Homo sapiens: one gene and its partner. The protein of the gene in region 2 interacts with the protein of the main gene of each other region in a biochemical or structural test. Each region holds a gene or a part of one and is shown on either strand. Other genes may lie near its edges. The genes, in order: SMOC2 and TNC.

The links.
Region 1: the proteins of TNC (region 2) and SMOC2 form a complex in vitro, tested with the Homo sapiens proteins (one study listed by BioGRID).

The regions. Positions count from the first base shown.
Region 1 is NC_000006.12:168,646,955-168,654,231, forward strand, and holds part of SMOC2 (SPARC-related modular calcium-binding protein 2 isoform 2 precursor), read left to right. Parts: intron 1-3,726; coding exon 3,727-3,829; intron 3,830-5,999; coding exon 6,000-6,274; intron 6,275-7,277. UniProt on the Homo sapiens protein: Promotes matrix assembly and cell adhesiveness. Can stimulate endothelial cell proliferation, migration, as well as angiogenesis.
Region 2 is NC_000009.12:115,080,006-115,087,282, forward strand, and holds part of TNC (tenascin isoform 1 precursor), read right to left. Parts: intron 7,269-7,277; coding exon 5,859-7,268; intron 4,468-5,858; coding exon 4,204-4,467; intron 2,803-4,203; coding exon 2,687-2,802; intron 1,924-2,686; coding exon 1,767-1,923; intron 1-1,766. UniProt on the Homo sapiens protein: Extracellular matrix protein implicated in guidance of migrating neurons as well as axons during development, synaptic plasticity as well as neuronal regeneration. Promotes neurite outgrowth from cortical neurons grown on a monolayer of astrocytes.

The DNA of each region.
Region 1 (7,277 bases), on a different chromosome or scaffold from region 2:
CTTTGAAAAGAACAGTCTGGTTTTCTTTCTTGAATTGGCTTATTATTCCCCCCAGGAGCCTGGGCATAGGACACTGCCACATGGTGTGGACTTTGAGAGGGCCTGGCACGTCTAACCCAGGTGGGAGTGTGTATGGGGTAGCACCTTCGTGCTATGCCTCTGTTGACCTGAGACTTCTGAACTCAGTTCAATGGGTGGTTGGAGAACTTACTGTGAGTGGAACTGTCCCAAAATAAAGGGTGACTGGGTACATCGCTGAGCCTGCATGCGGCAGTTTTGACGCCAACCCTTCCATGACGCAGTATTTACAGGGGCCGTTAGACCCCACCGTGCAGGCGGCTAAGTGAGAAGAAGGCCGGGGGCGGAGTGTGCTAGAAAGGACCCACCAGAGCACCAGGCTCCTCATACAGGTTCTCAGCGGGCAGCTTCCCCAGCCTGAATCACACACCACAAAATGCCAGAGCAAAGGGTGGCTTTGCTATCAAGATGGGCCAGAGGAGTTACAGCAAGGGTTGGCAGGGGGCCAGCGCCCCTGCGAGGGACGAGGGTCTCTGCAGCCATCACCGTGCCGGACACAGCTGTCATGGGAGAAGCGGAATAGCTCCCTGTGGGCAACAGTGGGGAAATCCCAGCTGTTCTGGGGTCGTTTCTCTTTTACCTCAAGCCTCGTTGCTCCTCTCATGCGTTTGCTAGATCTGGGACATCTCAGGGTGATGAAATTTTCACTTCATGGTACTTCTGTGATTTCTCATGCAGTGAACATTCACTTTAACATAATGAAAGTTAGTTTTTTTCTTCTGATTGCTTGTAATCTTTCATTTTTGTTCGCCTTTTTTCTTCAGAAGTAGTTTTGAAGTACAGTCGTCCGTCATCAGTAACAAGCATTATTCCAGGTCCTGGGGTGACTGTGACATGGGACTGAGCAGGATTGATTTGCTGCTTCTTGTTTTAGAAGTACATAATGCTTTTTATGTTCAGTTTTTCTTTTTGCACTAAAGACTCCTGCAGCTTTTATATTATGTTAGTCATGTTTCGTGATGAACATCTATTATTTTCTCATTTGAAATATTGTGTTGCTTTATCTCATTTGGGGGAATATGATTAAATTAACAGCCAAAAAAAATCCCCCTGGGTGTGTCCCTATTACCACACCAAATATCCACATAATTCTTTCTTAAAGCTGTTCAGTACTGAGGATTATCTAAAACGCCTTTTCTCCCAGATAATAATATTCTTCTCCATCAAATCCATATTCCTCTCAGAATCTCTGGAGGCCAGTGGAGGACTGGAAATTCATAGAGAGCAGCCCTGGCAGGCAGGTGCCCGAGGTCCTGTGGGTCCCAGCCTCACCTGCCCCGGCGCCTGTCTCGTCGCCCTGGACAAGTTCTCCTGGACGGCTGGCCTGGCAGGGCTTCTGCCCACGTGTTCCCGAGCCTGTGCCCTGGAGGCATTTTCAGCCCTCCAAGTTGTTTTTCTCATTTCCCTTCCTGGTTAGTCCTGCAGCTGGGGAGCTCAGCCTTCTGTAGACCGGGAGGCCCCTCCCAGGGAGCCGAGGCCGGGTGGGCTGGGCAGCTTTGGAAGCACCGCGGCCAGCAGCCTCTGCAGCCTCAGGTCCTCTGCCTTTCTGAGGGGATGTTCGATGAGACTGTTACTTCTTTCTTGGAAAGTAGCATTTGCCCCGTGGCCGTGATGCTTTTTGCTATAGATTTTGATCTCCTTTTTCAGTTGTGTGCAAAGAGACTAACACAGACCTTTTTGCACTCTCAGAACCCCCCTGGTGAAGGCTGCACATCTGTTTTCTGACATGTGTGTTTAATGAAGTGGAAGCCAGCATGACTGTGGAGTCTTGCTATCGGCAGCTCACGTGTGCTTCAAGAGCAATCACACAAAACTCCAGTGTCAAAAAGAAACCTAGGAAAACCAGGGCGTCCCTAACTGCATAAACAGGCTGGTCTCCGAACGACTTGGCTGCTGTCCACACCACGGCCACATGGTCCACGCCAACGTGCCCTTGACCCAGGGGTGGTCCACGCCAACGTGCCCTCGACCCAGGGGTCTGAGAATCACGTGTGGCACTGCCTTTCCCCACGGCACCCTCAGCCTGTCCTGTTGCCTGAGGAGTCCAGAGAGAGCCCTCCTCATCTCAGACAATCCTTCCTCTGAGGGCCACGGGGAAGGCGGGGAAGGGGCCGTCCTCAGTCCCACTCGGCTTTCTGCCTGGGCTCTGCAGCTCTCCGCGTCCTCCACTTACTGAGTGGGCTCCTGAGATTCCCTTTGGCGGGGCCGTCTAAAACTTTTCTTAGTAAAAAATGGAATCTAAATTGGGCAGAAGGTGTGTGGTGTAAACTCCCTTCCTGCTGTGGTGAGGACGGTCCGAGCAGATGTTCTAATGCCCGAGGTGCTCTCCAGGCTCAGAAGTCTCCGTGGGTGTCCCTAGCCCCAGCAGAGCCCCAGGGAGAGGCAGCCTCCCCAGCAGGGAGTCTGAGAGTGCAGCGTGGCTCAGTGGGGACGCTGTCCCTCCAGGGCTGGTGCCTGGCTTCTGTCTTCTATTTTCCCCTCGGTATCTTTCTCTTTCTACTGAACTCTGGAAGGGCTTTCTTTATAAAAATTTAACAAAATGTAAATGGTAACAAGCTCCGTTTGTCACCTCTCCCCTGGATATTTACACACAAATAGACCCAGTTGGAATCGGCAAATTTTGCTCCCTGCTTGTGAAGCTCTTAAACCCGCCGATCTCATCGGGGAAACGAGGGTGGGGCTCCTACCTCTTGCATTTGCTTATTGATCCAGCAAGCATGTATTGGGCAGCTGAGCTGCTTCTCTATGCCAAAAGGGCATCCAGAGAGAGGAGACCTATGTTGTCCATTGTCCATGCCACCCTGGGCATAAGGACACGGGATGCTGCCTGTGTCCAGCTACTGGGGCAGTAGCACCGGGAACGGTCTCAGGAGAAAAGACCCCAGAGAAAGTGGATGGCTTCTTTCAAATGTTATCTTGAATTTGGGGTGGGACGAGTGTCTCAGGCATGGTGTCAGGGAATTCCTAACCGGTGGGAGAGGAGAGTGGTGTTGAGGGAAGGATGGAGGGGAAAGTCACGCTGCAGAATGTTGGGTGCCTGAATTATTCCCTGACCCCAGAATCCATACACAGTCCGCGCTGGGCTCCAAAGCTATGAGCACTAAACCCTGCTGTGGACTGTTCGTGCCAATGCCGTGGTGTGGACAAGTCCCCAGGAGACGGGCGTTGGGGAGCTCCTGCTGTTTGCCCTACTGCCTCCTTTTGCTCTGAGAAGCGAGGTGGCTCTGGACAGGGTGGGGGTGGCGGTGAATCACAGGCCCTGGCCTCGATTGCTGGGATGGCCAGCCTCATGTGCTCTCAGCGTGCACTCCGTATGTCCCGTGTCCCTAAGCACCCGGTGCCTCTGCTGCCACACTCGCTGGATGAGTGACACTGCCCACCTCCGATTGCAGTTCTGAAGATCAGTGAGATACTAATGCCTGTGAATTTTAGTCTCACGTAATAATTCAAACAATAGAGGAATTAATAATAGCTATGGCTCAAAATCAATATATATAATGCAATGTGTTTGTGTTTAAACTAGCTCATTAAGATTAAGGTAGGCCAAAATACTCATTTCCAAACAGTAAAACAACATTTCCCTGTATTTTAGAGGAAAATCTGTTAGGCTTTATGAGTTAATTATGAAAACATACACGTGTTTTTCAGGTTGTCCGGGTGCCAAAAAGCATGAGTTTCTGACCAGCGTTCTGGACGCGCTGTCCACGGACATGGTCCACGCCGCCTCCGACCCCTCCTCCTCGTCAGGCAGGTACGCTGTGTTCGCCGTGGGACAACAAGTTGGCAGGGTCCCAGAATTCTGGGGAATCTGGAAAGTCTGAACATTACATATTGGCAACCTTCTCAGCTTATTTGGACACAGTAGGGCCTTAAAAAGGAGCCTTCTGCAAACACAGGAAGTTGCTTAGCAGGTTTTCTTGTAGCAAGACTAAATCACTGAAAACACTCCCATAGGGGTACATGGCCCTGAGCCGTGACTCCTGGGCCTCTGCGGGGTAGTGGGCTCTGACCCTGGCCCTTTTGGTGCGGAGCAGGGCAGGGGGAGCACTTCCTGCAGAGGGCTTTGTGCTTTGAAATTGCACTTTAGAGTCATCGATTGGATTGTAAATACTTTGAATGACAACGTTTAATCTGAAGTTCTCAAAACGTGATTAGGTTTACTGCAGTAAAATGTACAGCACATACATTTGCTGTCCTAACCACTTTCAGGCATGTGATTCAGTTACATCAAAGACATTCACACTGTTCAAAATAGGATTTTTGGAACCCTGGAGATGTTCCTTGAGTACCTGGTAGGCATTCCCGCACTCCTGGACCTGGGGCCTGGAGCTCGGTGGAGTGGCTTTCGGTGAATTCTCCAACACTCCTCTTTTCCACCCTCTGTAGATCAGCCTCAGGAGAGCAGAAGAACCCCAGGGTTTTACTGCGATGGCATCTCAAGCATCAGATATTCCCCCTGATCTAGCCATAGTTTATCTGTTTCTTTCAAATAAAGTTTTGATGGAGATTTCATCTTTTTTCTTTCTTTAGAATGTTGGCCTTTCTCCCCATAGCCCCTGACACCCAAACCCTTGATTATCTCAGCCACTTTAGGTGATTTTTTTGGTCTCCTGAACTAAAAGCCTCTCCTCTCACTGTCTGTCTGCTAAAGAAGACTTAAGGAAATAAAAAGGCAATACTAACAGAAAATGTCATGAATGTGTAGGAAATTAAATTTAATAGAGCAGGCCGGGCGCAGGGGCTCACGCCTGTAATCCCAACACTTTGGCAGGCCAAGGCAGGTGGATCACCTGAGGTCAGGAGTTCGAGACCAGCCTGGCCAACGTGGTGAAAACCCATCCCTACTAAAAATACAAAACTTAATCCAGCATGGTGGCAGGCACCTGTAATCCCAGCTACTCGGGAGGCTAAGGCAGGAGAATCACTTGAACCTGGGAGGCGGAGATTGCAGTGAGCCAAGACCACACCATTGCACTTCAGCCAGGACAACAAGAGCAAAACTCTGTCTCAAAAAAAAAAAAAAAAAATTTTAATAGAGTCAAACTGTATGTAAATTTCAACTTTACATCTTCTATTCTTGGAAAGATTGTTTTCGCAAACTAAGCTAAACTGCAAACTAAAAATGAAGGCAGTAAATGAATTGCTAACTAAACTAAATTGCAAACTAAACTAAATGCAAACTAAAATTGATGGCAGTAAATGGATTGTTATCTGAAAATCCTCCGAAAGGTTGAGAAATTGGCAATGGTGTCGGAGTTCACGGTGTTCTCATACCTGGGAATGTACAGCTCATCCCAACAGGCAGAATCCAGGGGCCAGCACCTCCAGGAGGGCCATCCCATGCGCACACACACACCCTCCATCTCACGGAGAAGGTGCGTGTCTGCCATTTGGTGCACTTTTAAAGATCCGCACCTTCTAGAAGAGTTTATTTATGTATGCCCTAAAATATTGAACCTAACATAATCCAAGGAAAAATATCTAGTCCCAACTTAAAATGTTTTTGATTTGCATCATCTGATATTCCTATGACATGAAGGATGTGTAAAAGAATCACATTTACAGGGCTAGAAAAGCTCAGGGTTCTGGTGTGTCGGGCGGGTATAGCTGCATGTGCTGACCTGCCAGTCCTGTGCACACAGAAGCCAGGATAAGGGGGCTTTTGTCCTTCAAGTGCATCTTTGCTGGGCACAAATTCACTGCATCATTTACAATTTTGAATCCAACCTGAAAAATCTTTGCTAAAAATGTTCTTCTAAATTATTTCTTTAAATTGTTATATCTGATGACCAGTGCTGCAGGCTGAGACACCAGGACCATGAGAACTACAAGCAGGGGTTATGGGTTTGAGGGAAGGACAGTGGCCAGGAAGGAGCAGCCCAGGGGTTTAAGCATCCTGACGGCATCTGTGTTCCTTCCAGGCTCTCAGAACCCGACCCCAGCCATACCCTAGAGGAGCGGGTGGTGCACTGGTACTTCAAACTACTGGATAAAAACTCCAGTGGAGACATCGGCAAAAAGGAAATCAAACCCTTCAAGAGGTTCCTTCGCAAAAAATCAAAGCCCAAAAAATGTGTGAAGAAGTTTGTTGAATACTGTGACGTGAATAATGACAAATCCATCTCCGTACAAGAACTGATGGGCTGCCTGGGCGTGGCGAAAGAGGACGGCAAAGCGGACACCAAGAAACGCCACAGTAAGAGCTTTCCCACCCCCGACCCTGGGCAGTGGTCAGGCCCTGAGGCCTGGGAGGTCTGCTTCTCACAAACACAATTACAGATTGTGTTTATGGCCTGGGAGTGCAAAAAATCAAATATGCTGTTTAATTGTTGGGCGTCTGTTTGCAGAAATAATAATGATAATTGGCGACTCATCACATGCCACTTGCCCAGGAGAGCCCAGGCTCAAAGGGCATGAACTGCGTGTTGGTTTGCAATGAGCCTTTTTACTGTTCAGACCACGGTTGGCTTCCCCCAGAATGGATTGTCTTCTGGTATTTGAGGTGCAAACCTGGGAACCACTGGAATAACCAACCCTGCACCTGAGCTCCAACCAAATGTTAGGAACTCACCAACCCTGCTCCTGAGCTCCAACCAAATGTTAGGAACTCACCAACCCTCTACCTGAGCTCCAACCAAATGTTAGGAACTCACCAACCCTCTACCTGAGCTCCAACCAAATGTTAGGAACTCACCACCCCTGTACCTGAGCTCCAACCAAATGTTAGGAACTCACCAACCCTGTACCTGAGCTCCAACCAGATGTTAGGAACTCACCACCCCTGTACCTGAGCTCCAACCAGATGTTAGGAACTCACCAACCCTGCACCTGAGCTCCAACCAGATGTTAGGAACTCACCAACCCTGCACCTGAGCTCCAACCAGATGTTAGGAACTCACCAACCCTGCACCTGAGCTCCAACCAGATGTTAGGAACTCACCAACCCTGCACCTGAGCTCCAACCAGATGTTAGGAACTCACCAACCCTGCACCTGAGCTCCAACCAGATGTTAGGAACTCACCAACCCTGCTCCTGAGCTCCAACCAAATGTTAGGAACTCACCAACCCTGTACCTGAGCTCCAACCAAATGTTAGGAACTCACCAACCCTGTACCTGAGCTCCAACCAGATGTTAGGAACTCACCAACCCTGCACCTGAGCTCCAACCAGATGTTAGGAACTCACCAACCCTGCACCT
Region 2 (7,277 bases):
ATGCCAGCACCTTAGGAGGCCGAGGCGGGTGGATCACTTGAGATCAGGAGTTCAAAACCAGCCTGGCCAACATGGTGAAATCCTGTCTCTACTAAAAATACAAAATGAACAGGTAAATATTTGTCCCCCTATGTTGAAATTTATGATTATGCAACTTCAAATGTTGGAATGTTTGTTCTAAAATAAGAAGAAATAAAGCAGACAATTCCCAAATTTAGATAAACAAAAGAGCAGTGAAAAAAAAAGTTCAGTGCACCTCCTCCATAGCAACTAAGCATTTGCTTTGTCTTTTCTTTGTCTTTCTGGTGATCTAATGATTTTTTTTTCCTGTTGGTACCTGCTTTTCTACCTACCACAGAGAGGTGGTGTCAGGATGATGGAAAACACTTGCTTATGAAAGAGAAAATCCTTTGAATTGGCTCTGAGCTAGGCAAAATGTGCAAATATTTAAATGCAAGATGTTCTTTCTTGTCATTAGCAACTGATTTAATTTTTCCAACAACCCCCTGCCAAGAAGAGTCGATTACTTAAAGAGTTGGCGCATATGTTATCTTGAAGAAAATAAAGAGGTTTTCCTATATGGAAGTGCAAAATTATGCATTTTTTTCTTTTTAAAAAATTGCAGCTGTGCACGGTGGCTCACGCCTGTAATCCTAGCACTTTAGGAGGCCGAGGCGGGTGGATCACTTGAGGTCAGGAGTTGGAAACCAGCCTGGCCAACATGCTGAAACCCCATCTCTACTAAAATACAAAAAAATTAGCCAGATGTGGTGGTGGGAGCCTGTAATCCCAGCTACTTGGGAGACTAAGGCAGGAGAATCACTTGAACCTGGGAGGCAGAGATTGCAGTGAACTGAGATCGTTCCACTGCACTCCAGCCTGGGTGACAGAAAAAAAAAAAAAAAATGTTTCCTGGTGGAGCAACTCCAAATTCAGGTCTTTTTCTCACCAAATGATCTAGTACTGCTAAATCCTATTCTACTCCCAAGAACTTCTGACATCATTAGTATTGAATGAAATTTTATTTAGGTTCCCATTGAAGAGATGGAATCAACATTCTACATAAACCAGAGCCTAGTCAATGTTAGTGGAAATGGGGTTAAAGTTATAAAACTTACCCTGGCTTAAAGTTATGCCCCTGATGGTGTTAACTATGGGATGTTAAAGTGATTTAGCTTCTTTAAGCCTTAACATTAATATTTTCCCTTCCTCTGTCCTACAACTGGGTGCTAATATTAAACTAGTGACATGATGCTAATTAGATTGTTAGCAATGGGCTTAATTATCTTCAGGTAGTCACACCCCTTTGAAAGGAGATTTTGAAACTCCTTTCATCAAGAGATGGATCTGTTTCTCTATTCCTTAAATATAAACTGGCCGTGGGATGTGCTTTGATAGAAGTGATCTAATGCCAATTTTGAACCTGTTCAATAGCTGTGTGAACAGGACCAGCATCCTGGAGAATGAGAGGCTCTGCGAAACAGAAAGACACCATCCTGGCTGAGGCCATCCTAGGCCAATCCACCCCTTAAGCACACAGATACATGAGGAGTGCAGTCAAGAACAGATAAGCTGCTCAGCTGAGCCCAAACCCAAATCACCAACATGCAAAGAATTGTTATTTTAAACCACTGTATCTGGATTTTTAAAAATGCAGCAAAAGTTAAATGATGTAGATGCTATATGAGAAGGCACTTTCTCAACCAGGAGGTGCTATGAGGTACAATCAGCCTTATCATTCTATAAGTATTAAAGGTGATACTCACGTGTGGTGGTCACCCTCTTCAGGCCAGGGCCCCGGGTATTGTTTTTCACTATGTGCAGAGATATCTCATACTCTTGCCCAGGAGCTAGACCAGTTTGCCGGTAAGAGGTCTCTGGCCTCCTCAGGCTTTTGGTGATCTCTCCCTCATCTTCTTTATTCTGAGAGATAGAGGCAGCTTGGTAAGAGTTAGGGGAGGTGCCAGTCTCTTAATTTATGTGATTCATTCACTCTGCATTCATTCATTCCTCTGTTATTCTTTCATCGATTCATTAGGCACTTACTATGCATCAGATCAGTATGTAAGCTACTGAGGATACAGAGATGATAAAGACATTTCTCTAGTTTGTTTCTCCCATTCGTAAACTTTTACCCCTTTGTCATGCAAGTCAAATGACAGAATGTGAGAGCCAAAGGAATTCTGAAGGCACAAGCTCAATCCCTCCTTGGGTAGACTGAGGCCAGCATCAGAGGAGTAGGGTGATTGTTGGATAGTCACACAGCTGGTTGGTGGCAGAGCCTGGGCTTAAATTCAGAGAACAAGTTCCCTGCTTCACATGTACTTTTGGGCCTGGAGAGAAGGGTTGCTCAAATCTGAGATGTACCTTTATTTTGAGGGAGAGACTGTTTCTTCTCTTCTTTGCCTCTGAGTAGAGATTTCTAAGGTGATGATGGACAATTGGAACCTTGAGGTGACAACTTCTATTTGTCTAGGGTGTCAGCCGTAAGTGCTACACTTACTTATTAAAATCAGGGAAAAACCAACATCCCTTAAAATATAGATGCAAACACAAATGATGCTAATGAGAGCCTTGTCCTCCACCAAAAACTAAGGAAAATTAGTTGATACAGAAGTCTTCAGAACCCTTTGGTCATCTTTCAAATCCTTGAGATCAAATGGATCTGCTCTTTTGTACTCCTTACCATATTCCGGAAGATGATCTCCCAGGTTTCAAAAGCAATGTCTAGAGGATCCCACTCCACTTCCACAGATGTCTCCTTGATGGACTTGAATTTCAGGCCTTCAGGTGCAGGTAAGTCTGTAAGTAACAACATAAATAGAACGTAAGGATAGGGCAGGTGTGTGATTGGGCAACGCGGCCACGATTCCACTAAACCAGACTGGATGTCTGCAACAGTCAGGGGCTGACAACCAGAGCAGGTGTCCTTTTAAAGCTTCTTCTGGGATGAGGTCTCTATGAGGCTGTATAAAAATTAATATTAGGAAAAATGGTATGATTAATTTTGGCAATTTCATATGTTTAAATCTAAAATGAACGCAGGCTTTGGAATCAGACAGACTTGGGGTTAGAATCTAAGCTCTACTATCAATGTGAACTTGAGCAATTGCACACAGTGCTCTAAGCCTGAGTTTCTTCACTTGGAAAAAGAAGGTAAATATGTCTACTTCTTGGGAATGCATTGAGGAGTGAGTGATATACTCCACTCCAGTGTGTAGACTGCTGGGCCTGGTTCGTGGCATGCAGAACAAGTTGAATAAATGGCAGCCAATGTTATTATTAAGGAAAAAAGGGTCAATTTCTAGCCAGAGCTTGCTTTTTAGATATGAAGGTAATTATACTGATGCTAAACTCATAAACCAGAATGTTTCCACTTAAAGAAAAATAGTCAGTGATCTCCACTGAAAAGTAATAGAGTGGTTTAGAACATAAACCTGCCAGGACTGCCAGGGTTAAAGTTTTGCCTCTACTCCTTGTTAGCTGCATGACTTGGGATAAGATGCTTAACCATGCAGTCTCAGTTTCCTCATCTGTAAAATGGGGTTAACAATAGCTCCTATTTCATACATATACTAACTCATATAATGAGGACTCTTTTTTTTTTTTTTTTTTCTTGAGACAGAGTCTCAATCTGTCACCCAGGCTGGAGTACAGTGGCATGATCTCAGCTCACTACAAACTCTGCCTCCTGGTTTCAAGCTATTCTCTGCCTCAGCCTCCTGAGTAGCCGGGATTACAGGCATGCACCACCAGGCCCGACTAATTTTTGTATTTTTAGTAGAGACAGGGTTTCGCCATGCTGGCCAGGCTGGTCTTGAACTCGTGACCCCAGGTGATCCACCTACTTTGGCCTCCCAAAGTGCTAGGATTACGGGCATGAGCCACCATGCCCGGCCAAATGAGGACTCTTATACTAATATGTAGACTGCTTACAACAAAGTCTGATACACAGTAAACACTTGCTAAATGTTACTTGTAATGATTTTCTCTGGCAGGAAGTATATAGGAGAGCAAGGAGAAAGATTTGATGGAAAATGAGGGATTTCTTTAATAAGTGATTCTATGGACTTAATTCTAGGCTCTTATTTGGTATAACTGTAAAGAACAACTATAGGATTGTAGGGGCCGTGGCGAGGGAGGGTTATACACTGGGTGGGCTGACATCAGGTGAGGCTGCCCAAAAGAGTTCTGCTCACTCACACGTGGCCACCCTGGCGCTGACAGGAATGCTCTTCTTGTTCTCCAGGATGGCAAATACACGGATAAAGTACTCCACACCAGGCTCCAGCTCCTGGATGATGGTGGACGTCTGGTCCCCAGGCACACGGAACTGCATTTCCAGACCACCCTCGTGGGTGGGCGTGTACACGACAAGGTACTCTGTGACCCGCATCTCATTGTCCCAGGCCAGGTTGACCGTCTCTTCCGTCACTTCTGTCACAACGAGGTCTTTGGGAGGAGACACTGGCAGGAATAAGAAAGGACATCTGGTGTCAACAGTGTGTCCTCTAAAATCTCTCTAGGTTTGTTTGACCTGTCTTTTCCACTGTCAGCCACAGAGGTCTGAAGATCTTCTGTTGCCTCTAAAATGCAGATGGCATCAGGGACCCCCTGCTGTGATCCATCTTAAGACCTGTGGTGGCTGTTCCTTAGTCCATTTCCTTCAGGCTGGAGTCCCAGGTCAGCAGTGTGCCCTTGGGTGTTTCTGGCCTCTCCAACTTTCTGTGCTTCCTGGGTCTTAGCTCAGATGCAGGCTGTTGGCATGGGAAAGTGCAGTCTGAGCCTCACTCCCTGCTCTGAACTTTGAGTTACGTGTCCCTAGCACTGGGAGGGTATTTTGGGCATATCTGGTCCAACTTTCTTATATTATAGAGGTGAGTAAGACAGAACGCCTTGACCAAGCTTGCTCACCTCATCAAGTTTAGAACTTGTATCTCCTCCCTGCCAGCCTGGTGTTCTTTCCAACCAGGCTTCCCTGCTTGCGCCACATTGAACACAAAGCCATTTATTTATGTTTAGATACCAATAACTTTAGTAAAGGAAAAAATTCTCCATTATGACAATGATAATATGGGTAGATGAGAGGAGTACAAAGAAGACACTCATTAAATATGAGCATTAATTTTCTCTCCTGTGTTTTCACTTAACCAGGGTTTACTAAGCACTTAATATGTACCAGGTCCCATACTAACTGCTAGAAATAGTGCCCTTTTAAGGATAGGAGCTTGCAGTCTTTAGGATTAAAAAAACAAAACAATCAAAAAAACAAAACCAGTTACAAAAGACAATGAAAAGACAGGTCAATCTTGTAGATAATAGGCATTTCGTCTTTAGCCAAGTATGCATTTGAAACAGTTGTTTTTATGTAATCTCACTGCGTATTCAATTTAGCTGAATTTTTACATCCATCCAAATACAGAGATTTTGTTTACTGTTGGTTTGATGTCAGTGGAGAGTAGGAAATAAAGTTGATATTTAGCAAAAGAGAGAGTATCCCTTTATCTACCTCATCTTGAACACTAGATGTGTTCTGGCCTCTCCAACTTTATTTTAAACTCTATGTAGATGAGTTAGGCAGACTTGAATACCAGCTCTGTGATGTGTCAGCTGTGTGTCCCTGGGACAATTATATAACCTCTCTGAGCCCTTCAGCCCTTAAATAGGTCACCTTGTAACAACGGAATGACAGGGCCCCCTTAAAAAGTCATTATGGGTGTGTGTTTAAATGGATATATTAATACGTACAAAGAATCAGTGTGCATGAATGTTTATATATATAAACGTAGTTTTCCAACCCATACTAGGAGTCCACTCCATCATGGCCATTATATGCTGGTCTGCGCCCTGGCACTCACCCTCTGAGCAGTCTTCTCCGCTGTAGCCCTCGTTGCAGATGCAGCGGCCCGAGACGCATTGTCCTAAGTTGTTGCAGTCACTGGGGCAGGAGTGCTGGCCACAGTCCAGGCCTGTGAAGCCCTCGTGGCAGATGCACTGGCCGTCCACGCAGCGGCCCTGGCCATGACAGTCACTGGGACATCTTTGCTCCTTGCAGTCTTTGCCCATAAATCCTTCATGGCACACGCACTGCCCATTCACACAGCGACCCTGGCCATGGCAGTCATTTGGACAGGAGAGTTCTGCACAGTCAGGGCCGGTGAAGCCGTCCTCACAGACGCACTGTCCGTCCACACAGAGGCCCCTGTTGCTGCAGTCCCTGGGGCATTGGCGATCCCGGCAGTCTTCCCCTGTGTAGCCGTCATCACAAACACACATGCCATTCACACAGCGGCCGTGCTGGTGACAGTCATTAGGGCAGCTCATGTCACTGCAGTCATAGCCCTTGAAGCCTTGCTCACATACACATTTGCCCTCGACACAGCGGCCCCGACTGTGACAGTCATTGGGGCACCGTAGCTGGCTGCAGTCCTCCCCAGTATAGCCCTCATCACACACACACTGCCCATTGACACAGCGGCCATGGCCACTGCAGCCATTGGGACACTTGAGCTCCCCACAGTCAGCTCCAGTGAAACCATCATCACACTCACACCGCCCGTCTACACAGCGGCCACGATTGTGACAGTCAGCAGGACACCTCTTCTCGCTGCAGTCCACACCGGCAAAGCCCTCATCACATACACACTGCCCCTCCTCACACCGGCCCTGGGTGTGGCAGGCATGTGGGCAGGTGGGTTTCCCGCAGTCTTCACCTGTGAAGCCTTCTTCGCAGTAGCAGGTGCCATTGATGCAGCGGCCCCGGTCGAAGCAGTCATTGGGGCAGATGAGCTCACTGCAGTCTTCGCCCGTGAAACCCTCATCACACACGCACTCATTCTCCACGCATCGTCCACGGTTGTAGCAATTGTTGAGACACAGAGGCTTGTTGCAGTCATCGCCTGCAAAGCCATCGTGGCACACACACAAGCCATCTACACATGTGCCGTGCTCCTCACTGCAGGGCACTGGGCAGATTTCACGGCTGCAGTCAGCCCCGGCGTAGCCTTCGAAACAGATGCAGACTCCATTTACGCACTTGCCCTGGTCATTGCAGTCGCTGGGGCAAGCCAGCTGGCTGCAGTCCTCGCCCGTGAAGCCGTCGTCACAGATGCACTGCCCATCAATGCACCGGCCTCGAAGGTGACAGTTGCCTGGACATTCGGGCTCAGAGCAGTTGGGGCCTTTCCAGCCAGGTTCGCAGACACAGCCACATCCTTCAGTGCTGAAGTTGCCCCGACCGCTACAGAAGGGCCTGGTGTCCAAGCGGCCTGCAACAA